Regions from separate parts of the Homo sapiens genome. Here all the other regions are linked to region 1. The links come from fine-mapping of genetic effects on gene expression. A gene starts in region 1. Each other region holds a variant in brackets. All regions are shown on one strand. Distances are from middle to middle.

Region 1 (8,179 bases):
CAGCTATGATTTATTGTTTTTAGAATGGTAGCATAGTACTTTTTTCATATAGAAGCCCATAATTTATTTAACCAATCCTCCATTACTGAACATCTAATTGTTTCTGATTTTCCCCTATTTTAAATCATGCTGTATTGAGCATTCCTGACTTCTCCACCCCTTCTGGATTAGGTCAAAGCAAACCTGAGACATCAAATCATTTCATCCACAAATATAAGTTTATAATTTTTATTTATTTTTTTTTTGAGAAAGAGTTCTGCTCTTGTCGCCCAGGCTAGAGTGCAATGGTGCGATCTCAGCTCACTGTAATCTCTGTCTCCTAGGATCAAGTGATTCTCCTGCCTCAGCCTCCTGAGTGGCTGGGATAACCGGTGCCTGCCACCATGCCCGGCTAATTTTTGTATTTTTAGTAGAGACAGATTTTCACCGTGTTGGCCGGGACTCCTGACCTCAGGTGATCCACCTGACTCAGCCTCCCAAAGTGCTGGGATTGTAGGCATGAGCCACTGCGCCCAGCCAAGTTAAAAAAAGTTTTTAAAATAGAGATGGGGTCTTGCTATGTTGCCTTGGCCTCAATCGATGCCCCTGCCTCGGCCTCCCAAAGTGCTGGGATTACAGATGTGAGCCACCTCACCTGGCATTCAAATTTTTATATTATAGCCAGGCGCAGTGGCTCACGCCTGTAATCCCAACATTTTGGGAGGCCAAGGCAAGTGGATCACCTGAGGTTGGGAGTTTGAGACCAGCCTGACCAACATGGAGAAACCCTGTCTCTACTAAAAATACAAAATTAGGTGGGTGTGGTAGCACACGCCTGTAATTCCAGCTACTCGGAAGGCTGAGGGAGGAGAATCGCTTGAACCCAGGAGGCGGAGGTTGCAGTGAGCCAAGATTGCGCCATTGCACTCCAGCCTGGGCAACAAGAGCAAAATTCCATCTCAAAAAAAAAATTATATTATAAAGCCTGTTAATCTTCTGGTCTTTCGTCTTCACTTTTAATTTTATTTATATTTTGATTAGACACGGTATTCACATGGTTCAAGATTCAAGAGAACAAAAGGATATGCTGAAAAATGCGTTTCCCACCCTGTTCTCCAGCTCCAGTTTCCTTCCTGGGAAACAACTCGTGTTATCAGCGCGTGCACATATAAAAGCAAATTGTGTGTCTCTGTGCTTTTTCCATTTAAGTACAATTGATAAACGACTTGAACACGGCTCTGCGTCTAGGTTTTATTACTAAACAACCTGTCCTGGGGAGCGTTCTGTAAGGAGAATCCTAGTTATTTTTGATAGCCATATGCATTCCATTGCAGGGCATACAATAATCATTCATTTATCCCATCTCTATTGGTGGACATTTAGGTTGTCTCCAGCTATTAGATTGGTGCAAAAGTCATTGTGGTTTTGGCTCAATGTTGCAGCGATGCAGTGGAAAGCCTTGTGTATTCCTTTCACTTACGTGTGAGCATTATCTGTAGGATAAATTTCTGGAAGTGCCAAGTCAAACAGGACATGTGTTTATATGTTTGATAAATACTGCCCAAATATTCTCTTTTGAGGTCGAGTCAGTCTACACACCAACCAGCAATGCAGGGGGTTGCCTGTTTTCCTCCCACCCTTGCGAATAGTGTGTTACCAAACTTTTTTTTTTTTTTTTGAGACAGGGACTCACTCTATCGCTCTGGCTGGAGTGCAGTGACACGATCATGGCTCACTGCAGCCTTGACTTTTCAGGCTCAAGCAATCCTCCCACCTCATTCTTCCAAGTAGCTGGGACTACAGGCACGTGCCACCACGCCTGGCTAATTTTTTTTTTTTGGTAGAGACAGGGTTTTGCCACGTGGCCCAGGCTGGTCTCGAACACCTGGTTTTAAGTGATTCTCCTGCCTCAGCCTCCCAAAGTGCTGGAATTACAGACATGAGCCACTGTGCCTGACCTACCAAACTGCTTTTTATCTTTGCTGATCTGGTAAGTGAAGAATAGTATCTTTTGTAGTTATAATTTTCATTTTCTTAATAAGTGAGTTATTGAACATCTTTTTACATGTTTATGAGCCCATGAATTTTCTTTCTGCAGGAGCAAGCACTGTCTCTTCATCTTTTTTTTCACAGGGGGTGGACAGAGTCTCTCTCTGTTACCCAGGCTGGAGTGTAGTGGCGCAATCTCGGCTCACTGCAACCTCCACCTCCCGGGTTCAAGCGATTCTCCTGCCTCAACCTCCCCAGTAGCTGGGATTACAGGCACCCACCACCATGCCCACCCAATTTTTGTATTTTTAGTAGAGACAGGGTTTCACTGCATTGGCCAGGCTGGTCTCGAACTCCTGACCTCGTAATCTGCCTGCCTTGGCCTCCCAAAGTGCTGGGATTACAAGCATGAGCCACCACGCCCAGCCCACTTAGGCTATTTCTGATTTTCCAGTATTATAAGTAATACTGCAGTGAAAAGCCTTGCATATAAATATTCTATTTCCTTAGGCTAAATTTATTTATTTTTTTGAGACAGTCTTGCTCTGTAGTCGAGGCTGGAGTGCAGTCATGTGATCTCAGCTCACTGAAGCCTCTGCCTCCCAGGTTCAAGCGATTCTCGTGCCTCAGCCTCCCAAGTAGGTGGGACCACAGGCATGCGCCACCACACCTGGCTGATTTTTGTGTTTTAGTACAGACACAGTTTCACCAGGTTGCCCAGGCTGGCCTTGAATTCCCGACCTCAAGTGATCCACCTGCCTTACAGGCATGAGCCACCACGCCCAGCCTCTTCAGGCTAAATTTCTGAAAGTGATCTTCATTCCTAACCCCAAACTGCCCTCCAGAAAGCTGGGTTGCACTTCTGCCACAGCAGGATCTTTACTCCTCTTAAAATCTCCGCGGAGCCTGGGTGGGAGAGGCAGAGCTCCGGGGGGAAGATTCTCTCCTGGCCTGATGTAGTGTTTTCCTTGGCTTGTCAGACATGGAGGAGATTATGCCAGATATGATAGTGGAGAGAGTCAGACATGCATGAGACTGGAGAGAGAAAAAAAACAAAATAGCCTCTGAGGTCTCACTCACAGCCTACTTACTCTTACTTTACACACAATTCTATATTCCGATATGTTTGTGACCTGGTTTTTAAGAGTACAGAGCAAATTAGGAAGGAGAAGCAAGGCTGCTACCTAGAGGTACCCTGGTCCTCCATGAAGTTTCCAAAAGAAGAGCAAGTGCAAGTAAAATAATAAAACACAGCCAGTCACAAAGCCATCAATTTGGACCATGCAGTGCAAGGCTTTAACTGTCCCAAGGATTCCAATCATGGATAAGGAAGAGCTTAAATTTGATTATAAATCTGAAAGTCTGGAAGTCAGCTTGAATATTGTGGTAGACATAATCATATCCTCCTCCTCAAAAGATGCCCTGGTTCTAATGCCCAGAATCTGTGAATATGTTATGCTACCCCACGAAGGGAAATTACAGTTGCAGGTGGAATTCAAGTTGCCAATCCATTGATTTAAAATAGAAAGATTACCCTGGATTATCTGGGTAGGCCCGATGTAATCACAAAGATGCTCACCAGTGGAAGCAAGAGGCAGAACAGTTGGTGTCAGAGTGACAGATTGTGAGAGACTGGTGGGCCACTGCTGGCTTTGAAGATGGATGGGGCCACCAGCCAAGGAATGTGGGCAGCTTCTAGAAGCCAGAAAAGCCAAAGAAACAGGTTCCCTTCCAGCCTCAAGAAAGCTGTATCCCTCAACCCCCTTGCTTTTAGTCCAGCGAGACCCATTTTGGACTTCTGATTTTACAAAACTTGTAAGATAGTAAATTAGTGTTGTTTTATGTTTGTGTTACGGCAGCCACAGGGAACCAATACAAATATTATCTGGTACCGCCCATTAAAGCTGCTCAGAGACAGGGAGCCCCACCCTGGCGGGGCTCCGGTGGCTGCACAACCTCTGCAAGCAGGATCAAGATGAGAGGCGCAGGCCAGGTGTGGTGGCTCACTCCTGTAATCTCAGCACTTTGGGAGGCCAAGGCGGGCGGATCACTTGAGGTCAGGAGTTCGAGACGAGCCTTACATGGTGAAACCCTGTCTCTACTAAAACTCCAAAAATTAACCAGGCGTGGTGGCGTGCACCTGTAGTCCCAGCTACTCGGGAGGCTGAGGCAGGAGAATCGCTTGAACCCAGGAGGAGGAAGTTGCAGTGAGCGGAGAAAGTGCCACTGCACTCCAGCGTGAGCGACAGAGCGAGACTCTGTCTCAAAAACAAATAAAGGAAAAAGAAAAAAATGAGAAGCGCGTGTTCCCGACTCCGGTGCTTTTTCGCAAGGTCGTGCTACTGCGCCTTCTGAACTACGAGTCCCAGGTACCAAGAAAGTTGAATTGCGTGCTGTGGCGGGTCCGTTATCTGCACCACCCGTCTGCACGGGATGCGCTGGCTTCCTGCCCCGGATGCACAAGGCTCCCTGCGGGACACTCAGGGCGAGGCTCTGAGCCCCTCCCCCGCGGCAGATGCCGTCCAGATGTGGCCGGCGGGTCCCGCGGGCTGCGGCGACAGGGACCCCGTCGGGGGCAGCAGGAGCCCTGGTGCATCCCAGGCCCCGGGGGGAAGGCCGGGCCGTCGGAGGAGCGGAGGAGCCCTGGGGGGCTCCCGGGAAGCCGCGGGCGGACGGGGGAGGAGCCCGGGCGGAGCTGCGGGCGGGCGGCCCGCTAGGGGTGAATCGGGTGGAGTAGTGGTCGGGTCCGGTTACTTCCCTTTAAAAAGACGGGAAAGGAGGAGTCCAGTGCTGGAGGGGCAGGGACGGCGGCGGCGCAGCTCGGAACCCGCCAGGGTCCAGGGTCCAGGTTCCAGCGCCCGGCGGCCCAGGCAAGTGGGGCGGGAGGGCGGGGGCTGCGGGCGCGGGTAGGGGTCGTGGGGCAGTTGGGTGCGCGGGAACCGAGGGAGCTGCAGACCCAGCGCTTGGCGCGTGCGGAGCTGGACTTCTGCGGCCGCGACGCCCCTCTTCCCAGATGGGTAAACTGAGGGCCAGGGAAAGCGAAGAATTCTTTTGGCCGAGCTCCCACTACGATCTCGCGGTCAAGTGGGTCCCCAGCGGGCCTCGCAGGGGTCGGAGGGGCTCCCATCTGGGGAGGGGGCCCCAGGGTGGGCGAGGGCGACGGGAGCCTGGGGAGGACGGACGGGGAGGGCGGCGGAGCGGAGCTAAGCTGCGGCGGGTGGACCCGGCTCGGCCGCGGCCACTCTGTCCCTGGTGGGTGGGGCGCGGCCGAAGGCAAAGGGCGAACCCGGCCCGCCTGTGGGGTCTCTGGCCAACACTGGGCTCAGAGGCCCTTTCTTTAACCTTAGATCTCGCTCCTCGGTCTAAAGCCTCCGCCGCAGCTCTCAGTGAAGAGGAAGGGGAACTCTAGGTGCTCAACGCCCGCGTTACAGTCGCGTTCTCCCTCGCTCCTACAACCCGGCCAAGATGCCGGGGCATGGATGGGGACCGAGGTTTGGGGGTTGTGGAGCCTATTCCACGCCCTCCCTGGTGAGCAACTGAGACAGATCCAGGGCCCCATTGCAATCCACTCTTGGTCTGGGAAAAGGTCCCCTAAACAGGGCCAATGGGATCCTTTCCCCAAATGACTCCAGAACGCACCCCCCCCCCCCAGCAGTGCGGTGGGCAGGGACGGCCCAGGTGGGCTATGTCCTGGGGTTTTGTGACTGGATCCCCACTCCTCCCCCACCTCAGCCCCTGGACTGCAACCCACCAGGCCGTGTTCGGGGGTGGTCAGAGCCCTGGTCTCAGCCAGACCTGAGGTCTGATGTGGCTTCATCCCTGAGTCTCTAAACGCCCTGGCCTTACTGGGCCTCAGTTAATTCACCTGTGAAAGGGGAGGCTTGGACCAGAGGGCCCCTCAGGGTATGTGTTTTGTGGAGGGGAGGTGGGCGTGTGGGGTAGGGGTGACCAGGAGGAAGTGGGGACAGCCTCTGTCCCACAGGAAGGCTGGCTAGCCCCAGTGGGTATGGGGGAGCTGGGCAGGGAAGAGGGTGGACTCCCCTCTCCCTGTGGGAGGGTGTGCTGGGCCCATGAGGCCCTCATCCACTCTCAGCCACCTTCCTGTGGAGCCCTAGCCTCGAAGGCCACACTATGAGTGCAAGGAGGCCACCCACAGCGCTGCTCCCGCTTCACAGGTGGGGAAACCGGCCCAGTGTCTTGAGGCAGCCCAGCCGCCTGCCCTGTGCTTCCCCCAGAGCCTTCTGGGGAATGAGACCTTCGTTACACGCTGGCGCTCCTTACACCCCTACAGCCTTTAAGCTAAGGCCTCCAGCCCCATCGCTGTAAGAATTGTATGCTAGGCATTCTGAGGACATAGATGGGGGTCCCCATGTCGGAAGGAGCCAAGGTGTTGGAACTGGGTCCAGTTCCTGGGCTGGCTCTGGTGGGAGATCTGGAACCCTATGCTGGGGCTCCTGGACAGCCCTGGAGGCATGGCATGGACAGTGTGTCAGCCGCACACCGAGGCCCTGGGGTGTCCTTATTCACATAGGCTGGCAGCCATCTATCCCTAGCCCGGGCTTCACCCCGGGTGCCTGTCACTCCTGGCCCTACAGTGGTCCCAGTCACACCTTGGAGGCAAGATGTGGGTCCTCCACAGGCCTGTGTCTGGAAGCAGCCCCCAGCACTCCCTGGCTAACAAGTTCTACTTCTGAGAACTACCCCCAGCTCCCAGCCCTGGTCTGGCCAAATGGGTGCGTGTCTTCTCCTGTGGTCTTCAACTCCCCTTGGCACGGCCACAGTAGATGTGAGGGGCTGTATGGGAGGACATTTTTAGGAGGCATATGTAGTTAAGCTGTGGAACCTGCTGCTAACTAGCTGTGTGGCCTTGGGCAAATCACTTAACCTTTCTGTGCCTCAGTGTCCTCATTTGCCAAATGGGGGTGATTATCCTGGTAGGGCACATAGTAGGTGCTCAGTTTCACCTACCATGTGTCTCACCAGGATAATCACCCCCCATTTGGCAGACAGGAGTTGCCAGGCAGGATCTGTGGCCCCACACAAACCCTATGTGTACTTCCCCCACCCACAAATGCCTCTGCTCCTTCCTCCTGTGTGCCCTGCATTGGGCTGAAGAGGCTGATGAGAGGCAACTTCCCATTGGGGCCTTCTGAGGTTCTTGCAGGAGGGGCAATGTCCAAGGCTCCCAGAGGAAGCACCCTGGGGTGATGCAGCTATGGGCGGAGGCCTCAGAAGCCTGGGAGAAAGCCAGGGGCCTGCGGGGACAGAGTGTGCCCTGGCCCAGGCCCAGCCTCGTCCCTACCCTTCTCGCTCACTGCTCCCTCAGAGCAGACAATGAGCCCCAGGTTGTCCCTGAGCTCCCAGTCTCATAGTTCACAGTCAGGGACACTGAGTGGGAGTGGGTGGGGCCTACCCAAGGACCCAGTGGTCGGGGATGGAGCATGGATAACACAGCAGCTCACCCGGCCACGGGTGCTCAGCTCTCCCGGCCACAGCCCCTCCCAGGCTCCTGGAGTCTTCATATTAGAGTAGAAAGCCTCTTGCACTTCACATCTGAGACCAAGGAGCCTCTCCCCACCCACAAGTGTGGGTGTCTTCCACACTGTGACTGTGACTTAGTTATGCCCTGGCATGATCGTTGTCAACCTTCATGTTTTTTGGTTTTGGCTTTGGTTTTAGTTTAGAAGAACTTACGTTTTCTGGACTAAAACATAGGCAGGGAAGAAATACATAAACCCATAGAAAGGCTGCTTTAGTTGAAGTGGGTTGAGAGCTCGGCTTCTACCCCGTCAAGAAATTCACAGCGAAAGGAACACATGCATTTTGCTCACTGGCAGAAAGAGCCTGCACCAAAGACAACCCGCAGGGCCAGCAACCCCAACATCATACAGGGTGGAGCAGCAGTTCCCAAAGCGGGTGCAACTGGACAGGATCCTTTTAGGAGCTACCTAGAGGAACAATTTTTTCTTTTTTTCTTTTTTTTTTTTTTTTTACTTGAGATGGAGTCTCACTCTGTCGCCCAGGCTGGAGTGCAGTGGCACGATTTCGGCCCACTGCAACCTCCGCCTCCCGGGTTCATGCCATTCTCCTGCCTCAGCCTCCCGAGTAGTTGGGATTACAGGCGCCCACCACCACGCCCGGCTAATTTTTTGTATTTTTAGTAGAGATGAGGTTTCACCGTGTTAGCCAGGATGGTCTCGATCTGCTGACC
Region 2 (8,179 bases), 62 kb before region 1:
CCCTATTACAGCCTGTAAGGCCCAACATGGTCCGGCTCCTTTGCCTCTCTCTCCCCTCACCGTATACACGCTCATCTTCACTATGCTCTAGGCTTCTTGCTGTTCTTCAAACACAAGTACATTTTTGTGTCTGGGCCTTTATACTTGTTCTGTCCCCTGGAATACTCTCATCTAGGTTCCTTCACTTCAGCTCTTTCAATGACTGACTTTTACCATTTATGTCTCAGCTCGAATTTTAATCCTTGGACAAACTTTCTTAGCACTCTATCTGAAGTAACCCCTGTCACATCATCCTGTTTACTTCCTTCAGGGCACTTAGGACAATAGAAAATATCTTGTTTCATTTGCCTCCTTGTTCTTCCCACACCCAGAATATAAACTGGATAAGAACATGACTTGTTGACTGTGGTGTCAACAATGGTATGTTCCTAGCATGTAGTCATCACACCTTTAACAATGGTTGAATAAACATTTAATACATAATTGGATTTAGTTTTTACCCTTCATTTCTTCATTTTATTCTACTGAGTTAACTGAGTTACATTTTTCTTTCTGCATTACTTTCATGTTGTTTTATTTATTGTTTCTTTTTTTTTTTTTGAGACGGAGTCTTGCTCTGTTGCCCAGGCTGGAGTGCGGTGGCGCAATCTCGGCTCACTGCAACCTCCGCCTCCTGGGTTCAAGCGATTCTCCTGCTTCAGCCTCCTGAATAGGTGGGACTATAGGCGCCCACCACCGCACCTGGCTAATTTTTGTATTTTTAGTAGAGTCGGGGGTTTCACCATGTTGACCAGGCTGGTCTCAAACTCCTGACCTCGGCCTCCCAAAGTGTTGGGATTACAGGCGTGAGCCACTGCACCTGGCTATTTATTGTTTCAATATAGTTTCACATACCTAGTAAGACTAGTTATTTCCCCTTTGTGGCAGTTGTTTTTCAGTACGTTCTCTGATATTTATAACTATTTGTTCATCCATATGTATTCTTGAATAATTTGTAAAGGTCCCAAAAAGTCCCTGTTGGATTATAATTATAATTAGAAGTGAATTAACAGTTAGCATTTCCCTCTTGTTTATTCATTTCTTCTTTTGAATCTTACATTAAAGTTTCTTTTATTTATTTTTTATTTTTTGGAGACAGAGTCTCACTTCGTCACCCAGACTCCAGTGAAGTCTAGATCCTGGCTTATAATATCATATTTTATATATCCTAAGATGCACATTTTATCACATTCTAATAACTCTAAAATCTGAGATCATGCCACTGCACACTGGGCAACAAGAGTGAGACTCCATCTCAAAAAAAAAAAAAAAATGAAGAGTATGTTAATTTATAATGCCTCCAGTACTATGTAAGTTTGTTATATAATTTGGAGTCTCACTCTTGTCGCCCAGAGTGCGGTGGCGTGATCTCAGCTCACTGCAACCTAACTTTGAGGTTAGGAGTTCAAGACCAGCCTGGCCAACATGGTGAAACTGTATCTCCACTAAAAATGCAAAAAAATTAGCCAGGCGTGGTGACAGGTGCCTGTAGTCCCAGCTACTGAGGAGGCTGAGGCAGGAAAATCACTTGAACCCAGGAGGTGGAGGTTGCAAAGAGCCGAGATTGTGCCACTGCACTCCAGGCTGGGTGACAAAGTGAGACCCCAAAAAATAAAAATTAATAAAAATTAAAAGTAATCATACTCTATATATAGTTCTAAAACTTTCTTTTTCATCATTTAAGTTCTGGAGCTTTTTCCACATGCAGTTTTTTTTGACGGTGTGTGATTTTCCATAATATGGATGTATCATCATCTTTGATTCATCATGCTACTTGTGGGCATCTATGTTTTTCCCAATTTCTTGCTATTGTAAAGGATGCTGCAATGACATCCTTCCACGTGCATCTATATGCACATATGTTAATTCCCATAGTACAGATTTCTCAATTGGAATTGCTGCTTTAATAAGGGCATGTGTTTTTTAAATGGATAGATACTGCTGAATTGCCTCCAAACAAAGGCTTTGCCTTTGATACTTGTACTAATGGAATGTAATAAGAATGTATCTGTTTACCCATAACCTCACTGACTTTTGAATATTAAGAATATTTTCACACTGGGTGCAATGGCTCACGCCTGTAATACCAATACTTTGGGAGGCCAAAGCAGGAGGATCGCTTAAGCCCTGGAGTTTGAGACCTTCCTGGGCAGCATAGTGAGACTTTGTCTCTACGAAAAAATTAGCCTGGCTGGGTGCGGCGGCCCACGCCCGTAATCCCAACGCTTTGGGAGGCTGAGGCAGGCAGATCACTTGAGGTCAGGAGTTGGAGCAGCCTGGCTAACATGGTGAAACCTCGTCTCTACTAAAAGTACAAAAATTAGCTGGGCCATTGTGCGGGACGTCTGTAATCCCAGCTGCTCAGGAGGCTGAGGCGGGAGAATCACTTGAACCTGGGAGGCGGAGGTTGCAGCGAGCCGAGATCATGCCACTGCACTCCAGCCTGGGTGACAGAGCGAGAGACCCTGTATCAAAACAAACAAAGAAACAGCAACAACAACAAAAATTAGCCTCGGGTGGTAGCATGCATCTGTGATTCTCAGCTACTTGGGAGGCTGAGGTTGAAGGATTGCTTGAGCCCAGGAGATCAGGGCTGCAGTGAGCTATGATTATACCACTGCACTCCAGCCTGCATGACAGACCAAGACCTTGTCTCAAAAATAAGATAAAAATAAGAATATTTTCAAATGTTTGCCAATCTGATGGGTGAAAAAATGCAAATTCATTGTTTTCACTAGAGTTTCCCTGAATAGTGGTGAGGCTGCGTATCTTTGGTATTTGGAAATGTCTACGATATTTGTCCACTTTTCAAAAGGCTCATTTGTTTTGTTTGTTTGTAAGTTAGATTTTTTCCTAATTGTATGCATATTCTTTTTTTGTTATATTTATTGCAAATATTTTCTCCTACTCCATTGGTCTTTTTGCTTTATGTAGGTACATCTGGAAGTTGTTTTCTTCATAGCTCCCAAGGTATGAAAATATTCTCCTACAGTTTTGCTGTTGTTTTTTTTTTCCTTTGGAGAAAACCATTTTTATTATCATCACCACCCAGCTTATTTGTGCTGGATTATGTACCAGTGGCAAGATCTTCTAACGAACATCTGCATAACATTTATTTTATGTTTTAAAAGATGAAAATAACTGTACAAGGTTAAGTACAAAAGTACACAAGATAACAGACACAAAAAAATGCATGTATGAGATTTCATTCTACCTACAGCACTTTATGTTCAAAAAGTAGAATTCACGAACCAAAAAATATTGTCCTTCTATAGTCCTGTCAGGTTTAGTGAAAGCGAGTCTAACATGATTACAACACCTATATCACTGATCTGATATTTATGAAAAAAATCTTATTTTTCAATAAATTAAAGCCAATGCAAATGGGAATAGCATTTCAGTTTTTTGGTGTTTTTCTTTTTTTTAATTTTTTTTATTTTGAGACAGAGTCTCACTCTGTTGCCCAGACTGGAGTACAGTGGCATGATCTTGGTTCACCGTGACCTCCACCTCTCAGGTTCAAGCAATTCTTGTGCCTCAGCCACCTGAGTAGCTGGGGGTTTTCACCATGTTGCTCAGGCTGGTCTTAAACTCCTGGCCTCAAGTGATCCACCTGCCTCGCCCTCCCAAAGTGCTGGGATTACAGGCATGAGCCACCGCGCCCGGCCATGTTTCAGGTTTATAAAATAGAGATATGAACATGGATGGTGGTGATGGTTGCACATTATGAACGTTATCGAATGCTACTGAATTGTACACTTAAAAAATGGCTATGATGGTAAATTTTATGTTACGTGTATTTTACCACAGCTTAAAAAAAGAGAGAGGAAGAAAAGCCAGTGCAACACCCTACAAACTGGAACACTAGCTCTTTGGGAACAAGGACCTGACATCAGAACAAGAAGGCTATAAGTTCCCAAACCTTAAAAGTATGATCTTTTTCAAACTGCATCCATTTCTCACGTTGAAGATGTGAAACCCAATCCCGTTCCTCTTTATGTGTGGGTCTGTGATCTTGCCTTTTCATACTGAGCATCTAAATTTCTAAATACAGTACTTCCTATTGCTTCAAAGTCTTCTAACTTTCTTCATCAAGTGAGCTACATCTAGCTTCATCTTCACTCTTAATACCCACTAATTTCCATATATATGACATTTTGGTCCTTGTTTCCCAAAGTCATAGTTCAGCAGACGGGGAGTTTGCCCAGTTTTTCTTGCCTTGACTTTTTTCCTCTTGTTCAGCAAATTTCACTGGATTTCCAGCTGCTGTGTCATAATCCCTAGGTACAGCTGTTCTGTCTCTGCCAAAGCTGTTGCTTGCAGGGCTCCCATTTGAGCTGCCATAGCTATCTGAGTTACTGGCATTCCTGATGCCAACAGGGCAGCAACATTGAGAACAAAATCTCTAGTAACTGGAGCTATTTCTTGTTTTTGTTTTTCAATGATTTCTTTTTCTTTTAAAAAATTTTTTCCCAACACCCATCCCAACTATTTCTTTTTCTTGCTGTTCTTGTAATTTCTTTGCCTAGTCCATCCTCCCAGCTAAAGCTTCTTATGCATCCTTTGCTGTGCCTCTGCCTCTGAAGAGAGATGAACTGGAAATCTGGCTTAAACTTCTGCTAAATCTTAGTTTCTCA[A/G]TGCTCTTCTTTCTCTCTTGTCTTCTGCTTCCTGTACTACTTCTGCTTCTTTCCTATGCATGTCATATTTATTTATTTACTTATTTTTCACACGCAACACAGATGTAGTTTTTATCTTGAACAGGAGCAAGATCTGATCCATGGTTTTCTTTCTTTCTTTTTTTTTTCTTTCCTTTTTGGAGACGGCGTCTCACTCTGTTGGCCAGGCTGGAGTGCAGTGGTGTGACCTCAGCTCACTGAAACCTCCACCTCCTGGGTTCAAGTGATTCTCCTGCCTCAGCCTCCCAAGTAGCTGGGACCTCAGACATGCATCACCACGCCTGGCTAATTTTTGCATTTTTAGTAGAGACAGGGTTTTGCCATGTTGGCCAGGTTGGTCTCAAACTCCTGAATCTCAGGTGATCTGCCTGACTTGGCCTCCCAAAGTGCTGGGATTACAGGTGTGAAGCACCATGTCCAGCCCATGGTTTTCTTTTCCTGCTTCTAGATCATGATCGTTCTTCTCTCTGCTTCTGGATTGAGACTACTTCTTTTCCCTCTACTACGATGATGCCTTTCACGAGACCTGTATCTTGAGTGACTTCTGCTTCTTGATGGCTTTCTTTGTGTTTGTGTCTGTCCTCATCATTTTCAGATGAATGTATTTATTTATTGAGACAGCATGTCACTCTGTTGCCCAGGCTGGAGTGCAGTGGCACAATCACAGCTCACTGTAACCTCTGTCTCCCCGGCTCAAGCTTCTCACCACAGCCTCCCGAGTAGCTGGAATCACAGGCACACACCACCACGCCTGGCTAACTTTTGTGTTTTTTATAGAGACAGGGCTTTGCCATGTTGCTCAAGCTGGTCTCAAACTTGTGAGCCCAAGCAATTTGCCCACCTTGGCCTTCCGAAGTACTGAGACTACAGACGTGAGTCACTGCGCCCAGCCCATTTTCAGATGAATTTAGTCCCTCTCTTCCTTTATCAGAATAATGTTCTTTGTCATTATGCTCCTCAGAAGTGTATTTCTTAGAGGATTTGTTGTAGGATTCCTGTCTTCTTGCCTCATCATGAAATAGGCTTATTATTTTCCTACCTGAGTCTGCAATGTCTTCAGTTCAGCCTCTTTGCCCATCAGCATGCGCTTTGTGTTTTCGTCCTTCGTTTTCTTTCTTGTTTTCTTTCTCTTGACCTTGATTGTGATCTTGAATAATATTTTGAGTAAGAAAAACAGATGCATCTGACAGTTCTTTTTCCACCCACTATCTGGGGATGTCTTTTTCTGGGGCTAGTCCATCTTGTCCTGGATAACTACCCTATCTTGAGAACCCAGTCTTAGTTTCATGAAACATCTTTAATGAAAACAGCCTTTTGGGATGGTGCTGCTGCAAACTGTGGTCTGGCTCTCCTCGCATGTGCTCTGGCTGCCGCAGAACAGAGCTCAGGCCGCTAGGGGGCACCTCCACGTGCCGCTTTTAGCAGTACCAGCCACCTCAAAGCTTTGCCACAGACTGAATAGCTCCTTCCGGGGGCCTGGATGGCACCCAGGGGATCTGCCGTTGCTTTTTTAATTTATTTTTTTACATTTAGCTCATTAATATCTGTTAGATATTTTTATGTCTGCATTGAAATATGTAACTTTATTTTTCCCCCAAAGGATAACTGTTCCAACATTATCAGTTAGCTTGTCTTTTCCCCACCAACTTAAAATACGACTCTTATTTTTAAAATTGCATTTTATAAACATGTATGTTTCAGTAATTTATATTCTGCCCCACTGATCTATATTCCCATCTTAGAATTATACTTTTATTTTATTTTTAAAATTTATTTAGAGACAAGGTCTTGGTATGTCACTCAGGCTGGAATGCAGTGGTGCAATGATAATTCACTGCAACCTTGAATTCCTGGGCTCAAGCAATCCTCCCACCTCAGCCTTCCAAGTAGCTGGGACTACAGGTGTGTGCCACTATGCCTGGCTAATTTTTTTATTTTTATTTTTTTGTGGAGACGATGTTTTGCTATGTTGCCCAGGCTGGTCTCAAACTCCTGGGCTCGAGGGATCTTCCTGTCTTGGCTGCCCAAAGTGTTGGGATTATAGGCATGAGCCACCTCACCCAGCCTTAGTATTATACTATTTTAGTTAACAAAGCTTTACAATGAATTTTGATACCTAGAAAGACTGCACCCAGGTGAAATAAACAGCCTTGTTTCTCACACAAAGCCTGTTTGGTGGTCTCTTCACATGGACACGTGAGACAGATTTCGCTAGGGAAGCAAATAACCATGGAGGTGGGCAAGAAATATCCATGATTGTAGAGCTTTCAATCAGCCTTTTATTCTTGTAACAAATGAAAAACAAAGGATTATCAGACATCTGCGGAAAACCTCTAACATAGAAGAAGGAGATAAAATGAACAAACAATAAAAAGCAACTTAAAAATGGACACCATATAAAGAAAGGAAAACAGTTTAAAAAAAAAAAAAACCCAAAACCCTATTCTTAAGCTACAGAGAAAGCCTGGCCAACATGGTGAAACCCTATCTCTACTAAAAATACGAAGTATTTTAGCCAGGCATGGTGGCACATACCTGTAGTCCCAGCTGCTCAGGAGGCTGAGGCAGGAGAATCACCTGCACCCGGGAGGCTGAGGCTGCAGTGTTCTGAGATCACACCACAGCACTCCAGCCTGGGTGACAGAGTGAGACCTTGTCTCAAAAAAAAAAAAAAAAAAAAAAGCCACAGAGAAATAAGACATTTATTTTAAATAATAATAAGACCCATTTATTAATTAGAAATAAAATAAGACCCATTTATGTCTTATTGCTAAATGGGTGCTAAACAAAAACACTCACAGCCTTGTTGCTCACACAAAATGAACAAAATGGTCTCTTAGAAATAAAAAATGAGAGGAAATGGAAACAAACAAAAACCCACTTCAACTGAAGTATTAGAAAATCAAGTTAATCAATTGTCTCAGAATGGGCAGAGATGGAAAATGGGAGAGAAAAGATGAGAAAATAAGACAGAGGCCGGGCACAGTGGCTCACGTCTGTAACCCCAGCACTTTGGTAGGCCAAGACAGGGGGATCACTTAAGGTCAGGAATTGGATATCAGCCTGGCCAACATGGTGAAACCTCGTCTCTACTAAAAATACAAAAATTAGCCAGGCGTGGTGGTGCATGCCTGTAATCCCAGCTACTCAGGAGGCTGAGGCAGGAGAATTGCTTGAACCCAGGAGGCAGAGGCTGCAGTGAGCCAAGATCGTGGCACTGCACTTCAGCGTGGACAACAGAGCGAGAGTCTGTCTCAAAAAAAAAAAAAAAAGAAGACAGACAGAGGTCCAATACTTGAATATAAGCAGCTCCAAAAAGATTGATTAGGAATGTGGAAAGGAGGGAATTCTCAACAAAATAATTCGATAAAATTTCCCAGAACTGAAGGACTTGAACTGCAGGATTATAAGGGCTTACCAAGTACCCAGCATAGTGATTGAGAAATAGACCCATTTAACTATGT
Region 3 (8,179 bases), 28 kb before region 1:
GCTTGTGCCACTATGCCCAGCTAGTTTTTAAACTTTTTTTTTTTAGAGAGACAGAGGTCTCACTATGTTGCCCAGGCTGGTCTTGAACTCCTGGGCTCAAGCAATCCTCCTTCCTAGGCCTCCCAAAATGCTGGGAATACAGGCATGAGCTGCTATGCCTGGTCTTAATCTACTTTTGTCTGCAGAGGTTAACTTTGTGTTGCAGACAGTAAGTAGGTCCAGTTATAGAAGCAAGTACCTTCAAGGGATGGAGGATGAGGTGATAGCATCCTAGAAAAGAAAAAATGAGGCCAGGCGAGGTGGCTCACACCTGTAATCCCAGCACTTTGGGAGGCTGAGGTGGGCGGATCACCTGAGATCAGGAGTTTGAGACCAGCCTGGCCAACATGGTGAGACCCCATTTCTACCAAAAAATACAAAAATTAGCCAGGTGTGCTGGGCGCAGTTGCTCATACCTGTAATCCCAGCACTTTGGGAGGCCGAGGCAGGCGGATCACAAGGTCAGGAGATCGAGACCATCCTGGCTAACACAGTGAAACCCTGTCTCTACTAAAAATACAAAAAATTAGCTGGGTGTGGTGGCACACGCCTGTAGTCCCAGCTACTCGGGAGGCTGAGGCAGGAGAATTGCTTGAACCCGGGAGGCGGATGTTGCAGTGAGCCGAGATCGCACCACTGCACTCCAGCCTGGGCCACAGAGCGAGACTCCGTCTCAAAAAAAAAAGAAAAAAAATTAGCCGGGTGTGGTGGCATGTGGCCTGTAGTCCCAGCTACTGGGGAGGTTAAGGCTGTAGGATCGCTTGAATCTGGGAGGTGGAGGTTGCAATGAGCCGAGATCATGCCACTGTATTCCATCCTGGGCGACAGAGTGAGACCATGTCTCAAGAAAAAAAAAAAATAAAGAGACACAGATGTCCAGAGGTGTTGGGGGAGAGTGGAGAGACTCGATAACAGGTTAGATTGTCTTTAGAGGAATTGACATTTTGACTACAGTACTCATTCCTACTCTTGACTATTTTCAGGGGTTCCAAGAGAAAAATTTAAATAGGACAGAGCTAAAAACACCGACTTTCACTCACTAAAATGTTGTCATAAATTTATGTATCTTGATCTTGGAAAACATCAGTATCTATGCCTCATTTTACCTTTTAAGATTTCAGATTTATCACCCGAAGCATTTTCTCTATTGCCTTCCCCTTATATCAAGATATCCTGTTGGTTTATTGGGGTTATCCTAATCTTTATGTCAGATGAAACTCATCCTGGTTGTAATTATTTTTAGGTTGAATTACCATTGGATTTGCCAAGTACTGAAAAATCAGTAGCACTTTTGTTTAAACTCTGTTAATAAACACTTCTGAGTGAATTTTGCTAGTGTCATTATTTCCCATGCTTGCTGAGTAGAAGGTTGAATTATTATTACTTCATAATTCATATTTGTTCAATGCACACTGTGTGAAGCTGAGTTTAGGCCTCTCGAAGACTTAGCCTCTTTCTTTCTGTTCCTGTGGTTTTGAATACCATTTACATGACTCACGTCTCAGATTTTCTTTCCCTACCAGCCTCCCTGTGTTGGTTTGTGACTTTATCTGTCAGTGTTCTCTCAGGTATTTACTTAGATTTCTGCAGGCATCCTCAAGGTCAGCGCATCAGCCAACTTCTGTTGTTTAACAGAACCCTTCTTTGTGCCCTGACTCTATCTCCAGTTCTTTAGGTACATGAGTTCAGTGTTGATTCTTGACTGCTTGCTCCCACACCCATGCTTGGCAGCCTCCAACTTTCTTAAGTCCCATCTATCTCCAATCAGAGAAATGTTAGCCATCTTTCATGGTCAACTTCATATTCAGTGGACAAGGTCTGAACTGACTAGCAGGACTAACACGGGCAGCTGTTCGCTCATCCATTGCTCACTTACACTTGAGTCATTTTGCTTACCAAAGGTCAGTTGTGATGTTTCCAGATCTCTTTATGCCAGTAAACTGGTACTGTAATTATGTAATTTGATTAAATAATATACAGATTAAATTATGAGGGAGAAAAGAAAATTATTCTGGCTGTGCATGGTGGCTCACGCCTGTAATCCTAGGACTTTGGGAGGCCGGGGTAGGCAGATTGCCTGAGCTCAGGAGTTCAAGACCAGCCTGGGCAACATGGTAAAACCTCGTCTCTACTAAAAATACAAAAAATAAGCTGGGCGTGGTGGCGGGCGCCTGTAGTCCCAGCTACTCAGGAGGCTGAGGCAAGAGAATCGCTTGAGCCTGGGAGACAGAGGCTGCAGTGAGCCGAGATCGTGCCACTGCACTCCAGCTGGGCAACAGAGTGAGACTGTTTCCAAAAAAAAAAAGAAAAGAAAATTACTCTGTGAAAAGTAAGAGGAATGCTTTGGAAGGACAAGTACTTTAAAAAGGAAATGAAGCTGAATTAGGTTTGGGCAAGATAACTATGGAAGAGTAGAGGTGGAAGGATCTTAAAAATCTAGGATTCTGTACTTACTGTTTCACAGCAGTTTGAGTTCTAACTTTAAGAAACTGGAAATTGTAGATGATGCATTCTGGGTGAGTTTTTTGCAATAATGGCAAAAAACTCTAATCAGCAGAAGAGATCCTTCTAGGTTGGGCACATTGGCTCACACCTGTAATCCCAATGCTTTGGAAGGCTGAGGCGGGAGGATCCCTTGAGCTCAGGAGTTCAAGACCAGCCTGAGCAATATAGCAAGACCTCATCTCTACTTAGAAATTAAAAAAAAAAAGAAAAAAAGCTGGGCATGGTGGCACATGCCTATAGGCCCAGCTACTCATGAGACTGAGGCAGGAGGATTGCTGGAGCCCAGGAGTTCAAGGCTGCAGTGAGCTATTATCATGGCACTGCACTCCAGCCTGGGTGACAGAGCAAGACCCTGTCTCTAAAAAAAGAAAGAAAGAAAGAAGGAAGGAAGGAAAGAAGGAAGGAAGGAAAGAAAAAAGTAAAGAAAGAAAGAGAGAGAGAGAGAAAGAAAGAAAGAAAGAAAGAAAGAAAGAAAGAAAGAAAGAAAGAAAGAAAGAAAGAAAGAGAAAGAAAGAAAGAGGGTTTTTTGGCCCTAGCCAAAAGTTCAGTGGCTCTCAAAGTTTTGTTGTTTATAACAATGATGGTAGGCTTGAACATTCACGGGAAAAGTCACAGTAAAAGTCAGATTAACCATATCTTTATTACTTTAGTTT[T/G]AAATGCTATCCATGGACTCTCAGTTACTGAGGGTGAGGAAATCAGTGTTCGTATTCTACCTCCCTCCTTTTTCCCCTCTTCTCTTCCTAGTTTTTGCTAGCTGGAGTTTTATACATCATCAAAGCATATAGTATTGACGATCTGTTGTTACCCTAATCCTATTTTAGTCTTAGACCTACAGTTAAGTAGTTTTCAGTGCTCACCGTAAGTTTTTGCCGTAGTTTTTTTGTTTTTGTTTTTGTTTTTGTTTCTGAGACGGAGTTTCACTCTTGTTGCCCAGGCTGGAGTGCAGTGGCACGATCTTGGCTCACTGTAACCTCCTCCTCCTGGGTTCAGGCGATTCTCCTGCCCCAGCCTCCCAAGTAGCTAGAATTACAGGCACATGCCACTTCTGCCCAGCTAACTTTTGTTTGTTTGTTTTTTTCTGAGATAGAGTCTCGCTCCATCACCCAGGCTGGAGTACAATGGTGCGATCTCAGCTCACTGCAGCCTCCACCTCCCGGGTTCAAGCAATTCTGCCTCAGCCTCCTGAGTAGCTGGGATTACAGGTGCATGCCACCACACCTGGCTAATTTTTGTATTTTTAGTAGAGACGGGGTTTCACCATGTTGGCCAGGCTGGTCTTGAACTCCTGACCTCAAATGATCCACCCACCTTGGCCTCCCAAAGTGCTGGGATTACAGGCATGAGCCACCAGGCCTGGCCCTGCCATAGTTTTTCCAGTCACCTGTTAGTTGGCACAAGTGCTTCCTTTTGTAGATTCCTTAAGAAATACTTGGCTGGGTGTAGTGGCTCATGCTTGTAATCCCAGCACTTTGGGAGGCCAAGGCGGACGGATCACCTGAGTTTGGGAGTTTGAGACCAGCCTGACCAACATGGAGAAACCCCATCTCTACGAAAAATACAAAATTAGTCAGGCGTGGTGGCACATGCCTGTAATCCCAGCTACTCAGGAGGCTGAAGCAAGAGAATCGCTTGAACCGGGGAGGCAGAGGTTGTGGTGAGCGGAGATCGCGCCATTGCACTCCAGTCTGGATAACAAGAGTGAAACTCTGTCTCAAAAAAAAAGAAAAAAAGAAATACCTGGGAATAATGGTCCCCATTCTGTTACCCTTGCTGGACAGTTGACTGGGTATAAAGTCCTTGAGTCTTCTGGGCACAGTGGCTTACGCCTGTAATCCCAGCACTTTGGGAGGCCAAGGTGGGCGGATCACAAGGTCAAGAGATGCAGACCATCCTGGCCAACATGGTAAAACCCCGTCTCTACTAAAAATACAAAAATTAGCTGGGCATGGTGGCGCATGCCTATAGTCCCAGCTACTTGGGAGGCTGAGGCAGGAGAATCGCTTGAACCCAGGAGGTGGAGGTTGCACTGAGCCGAGATCGCGCCACTGCACTCCAGCCTGGCAACAGAGCGAGACTCCGTCTCAAAAATAAAAATAAAAATAAATAAAGTCCTTGAGTCACACTTTCTGTCCTTGAGAATTTTGTAGGTGTTGTTCCATTTTCTGTTAGCATTAAATATTAATGTGGAAATTTTCATTATTTTGTTTCTCTTTTAAGTGATTTGATCTTTTTGCCTGGTTGCAGGAACCCAGAAACCTTACCTAAAGGTGTATCTTGGTACTGCCTATTCTGAATTTGTTTCCCCTGGGATACAGTGTGACCTTTCAGTGTGTAGACCCCAATCCTCTTATAGTTCAGAAACACCTTAGATTCTATCTTTATGAACATATCTTTACATATTTTTCCCATTCATGTTAAAGTTTTCTTTTATGCAAATATTACATCTCCTTTGCTGTCTTTTGTAACTGTTTCTTCTCTATTTCTTTTAGCCCTTTTTGGTTTCATTTTTTTTTTCCATTTCTCTCCTTTTGTTCCTAGTGTGTTTTTAGCAGTTTCTTCTCCCTTTGCTTCTTCCAGTTTCACCTTCATTTCTGTAACAGTATTTTTCCTTTCACTTCTTTCCTCAGTTCTGCCAGTATGCAGCTTGTCTTCTCTTCTCGTCTCCCTACCTCTGCTAAAGTTCTTGTATTTCTGCTTTGAGCTCTCATTTCATAGAGACAACTATTTTATCAAGTTTTCTTTTTTTCTTTGTGTAAAATATTTTATTACCATTGTATCTAGTCCATGGAGGCCCTTTTCCAGTCTGTGGTCTTAGTCTGCCATTTGGTTTTCCTATTTCTTTCCTAATTTTTTCTCGTTGTATATTTATATAGATCCTGTTTAGATTTTTTGTATACTTATCTTTAAATAGGCAAGTTTTTCAGGGACCAGCTGTTTTGCAGGATGTTTGTTGGAGGAGCTACCAAAACTCTGTTCTGGGCTAGCTACAGTTGTTCCCTTGATTTAGGGTTCTGGGTGAGTCCGTTTACCCTTAGTCTCTAGCCAGCCAATCGAGATAGGCAAGGCGTCTCTTAGCATCTCCACAATGCAAAGGATGTCTTCTCTACTACCACAGACACCACCTCTGTGAGGCAAATGTAGCTTGCGTGATTTCTCATTTAGCCTCAACTTCAGGTCCAAGGAAGTTCCTGCCTTCCAAAAACAAGGAATTAATTTGGTGCTGGAGTGTGTCCTTTACCCACAGGAAGTACATATTTTTGCAGATCTTTCTGAGATCACCAGCTTCCCTGTCCTCTCCCTGTAGCATCCTTTCTTCTTTTTCTTCTGTGAAGCAAAGGAGTCCCTGCCTGAGCTCCCTGCTTTTGACAGCTTTTTCACCTGTTTGGGGGTTTGGAATTTTGGATATCCTGTAGTTATAACAAAAATGGAGTTTGCATTTTTATTTCTTCTTTTTGCATTTGGAACATATTTTGAACAGCATTTGAAAATGCTGACTTTATGATGCAGTGTTAAATAAGAAGTTTTAACTGACTTTTTCTGTTAACCAGCCACTAGTCTCCACGACATCATGTGTTAGGCCTTTTACTATACCTTCTCCAGAAAGCCCCCACCACCACACTGTTGTCTATCTTCGAAGTCCCTAAAGCCCAAGGAATATGCTACTTAGATATATGGAAAGCCTTTCATTCATTTAGCATGCCTACTCTGAGCGTTGTTCTAGGCCTTGGAGATAAAGCATGGAAGAATTAATACAAGATATTGACACACCAAAGACAAGTCTTAAATGATTTCATGTGGACTAGGGGTCAGGGATGAATAGAGTGGAAGACATAGTTTGGGATTCTGAGGAAGTATGATATAAAGGGTAGAACATGAGCTCCGGAATCAGCACCATTCTGCTGCTAATATACATGACATTGGGATCATTTTATTGCCTTTTCCTCATATATAAAATGTATCAATTTCTTCATATATAAAGTGAAGTCAGGCCAGGCGTGGTGGCTCACGCCTGTAATCTCAGCACTTTGGGAGGCCAAGGCAGGGGGATCATCTGAGGTCAGGAGTTCCAGACCAGCCTGGCCAACATGAGGAAACCCCGACTCTACTAAAAATATAAAAATTAGCTGGGCATGGTGGCGGGTGCCTGTAATCCCAGCTACTCAGGAGGCTGAGTTGGGAGAATCGCTTGAACCCAGGAGGCGGAGGTTGCAGTGAGCCAAGTTCACACCACTGTACTCCAGCCTGGGTGACAGAGTGAGACTCAGCCTCAAATAATAATAGTAATAATAATAATAAAGTGAAGATTATATTACCTACCTTAGATGAATGTTGTAAAATTAAGGTAAGTTACATAAAGTACTTGGTTCATAATAGATACTCAACAAGTACTACTTTCTACCCACACAGGGATTGGCTAAATAAAAGGAATAAATACTGAAAGTGCAGGTATAGAGGACTATTTCTCTCCTTTTTTGTTAAATTGTGGTAAAATATGTAACATATAGTTTCCTGTCTTCACCATTTTTAAGCTTACAGTTCTGTGGCATTAAGTATATCCACATTGTTGTGCAGTCGCCACCACCATCCGTCTCCAGAGCTCTTCATCTTGCAAAACAGCACCTCTGTACACATTAAACAATAGCCACCACTGTCCTCTTCCCCCTGCCTCATGGCAGCCCCCGTTCCAGTTTCTGTCTCTGAATTTGACTACTCTGGGTACCTCACAGGAGTGGAATCACACAGTCCTCATCCTTTTGTGTGTGGGTTGTTTCACTTATAGTATCTTCAAGGTTCATCCGTGTTACATTGTGTCTCAGAATTCCCTTCCCTTTTACAGCATCTCAATTCAGATGAAAAAAAAAAAAAGAATTCTTTTCCTTTTTAAGGCTGAATAATATTCTGTTGTATTTCTATGGCACATTTTGTTGATCCAGTCGTCTGTTCATGGACACTTGGGCTGCTTCCACCTTTTGGCTGTTGTGAATAATACTGCTATGAACATGGGTGTACACATTCTCTTCAAGTCTTTACTTTCAGTTCTTTTGAGTGTATATCCAAAAGTGGAATTGCTGGGCCATATGGTAATTCTGTTTTTAATCTTTTTGAGGAACCACCATACTGTTTTCAGAGGCCTATTTCTTGATGGGGAAGTATAAACAGTGGAATTCCCCCAGGGAATAATTTTAAAACCAGTCTTGTTTAACATTTTGTAAATTATCTAAATATGAGACTTTTACCATTAAATCTTCATTTGCATATAGCTAATGAATAATTCATATTGTATAAAATGTAAGAACACCTCGTGAGAGTGTGTGTGTGCGTGTGTGTAGACAGAACAGTGGTTAATAAAGCTCAATGTGGGCACACACGCAAGGGAATACATTTGATTTATTATACTCTGTCCTCAAGATCAGAAGTTCCCTGCACTTACTGAGGGCAAAATACAGGGAGCCAATGCCAGAGAACTTCAGATGTCAGAAGTGCACAGTGCCCAGATATGCAGACACATCTTTCTTCTTGACTCTGCATTGCTGACAGAGTAAACTGGTGGTTGACTCTAGACTCTGGACCAGTGGTTCTCAGCTGGGGTGAATTTGCCCCCTGGAACACATATGACAATTCTGGAGACATTTTT

The links.
Region 2: its variant is fine-mapped to the expression of ANPEP in whole blood (INTERVAL, PIP above 0.99).
Region 3: its variant is fine-mapped to the expression of ANPEP in whole blood (TOPMed, PIP above 0.99).

The regions. Positions count from the first base shown.
Region 1 is chr15:89,811,431-89,819,609 of GRCh38, reverse strand. ANPEP (alanyl aminopeptidase, membrane) reads left to right here and starts at 4,758. Exons shown (of 21, transcript NM_001150.3): 1 at 4,758-4,838. RefSeq lists cis regulatory regions at 4,375-4,377, 4,395-4,424, 4,423-4,426, 4,334-4,462, 4,714-4,719, promoters at 4,334-4,822, 3,668-4,822 and an enhancer at 4,690-5,189.
Region 2 is chr15:89,873,095-89,881,273 of GRCh38, reverse strand. The region is part of intron 7 of ARPIN-AP3S2 (ARPIN-AP3S2 readthrough); the gene reads left to right. The region is part of intron 3 of AP3S2 (adaptor related protein complex 3 subunit sigma 2); the gene reads left to right. It also overlaps the pseudogene LOC100631255. Among named protein-coding and RNA genes, the nearest start is that of MIR5009, 6.8 kb to the left of the region's middle. The variant A/G (reference allele first, on the strand shown) is at 4,677.
Region 3 is chr15:89,839,080-89,847,258 of GRCh38, reverse strand. The region is part of intron 8 of ARPIN-AP3S2 (ARPIN-AP3S2 readthrough); the gene reads left to right. All of the region lies in intron 4 of AP3S2 (adaptor related protein complex 3 subunit sigma 2), which reads left to right. It overlaps LOC124903552 (a long non-coding RNA gene), which reads right to left. Exons shown (of 2, transcript XR_007064754.1): 2 at 7,915-8,179. Among named protein-coding and RNA genes, the nearest start is that of MIR5094, 7.6 kb to the left of the region's middle. The variant T/G (reference allele first, on the strand shown) is at 3,198.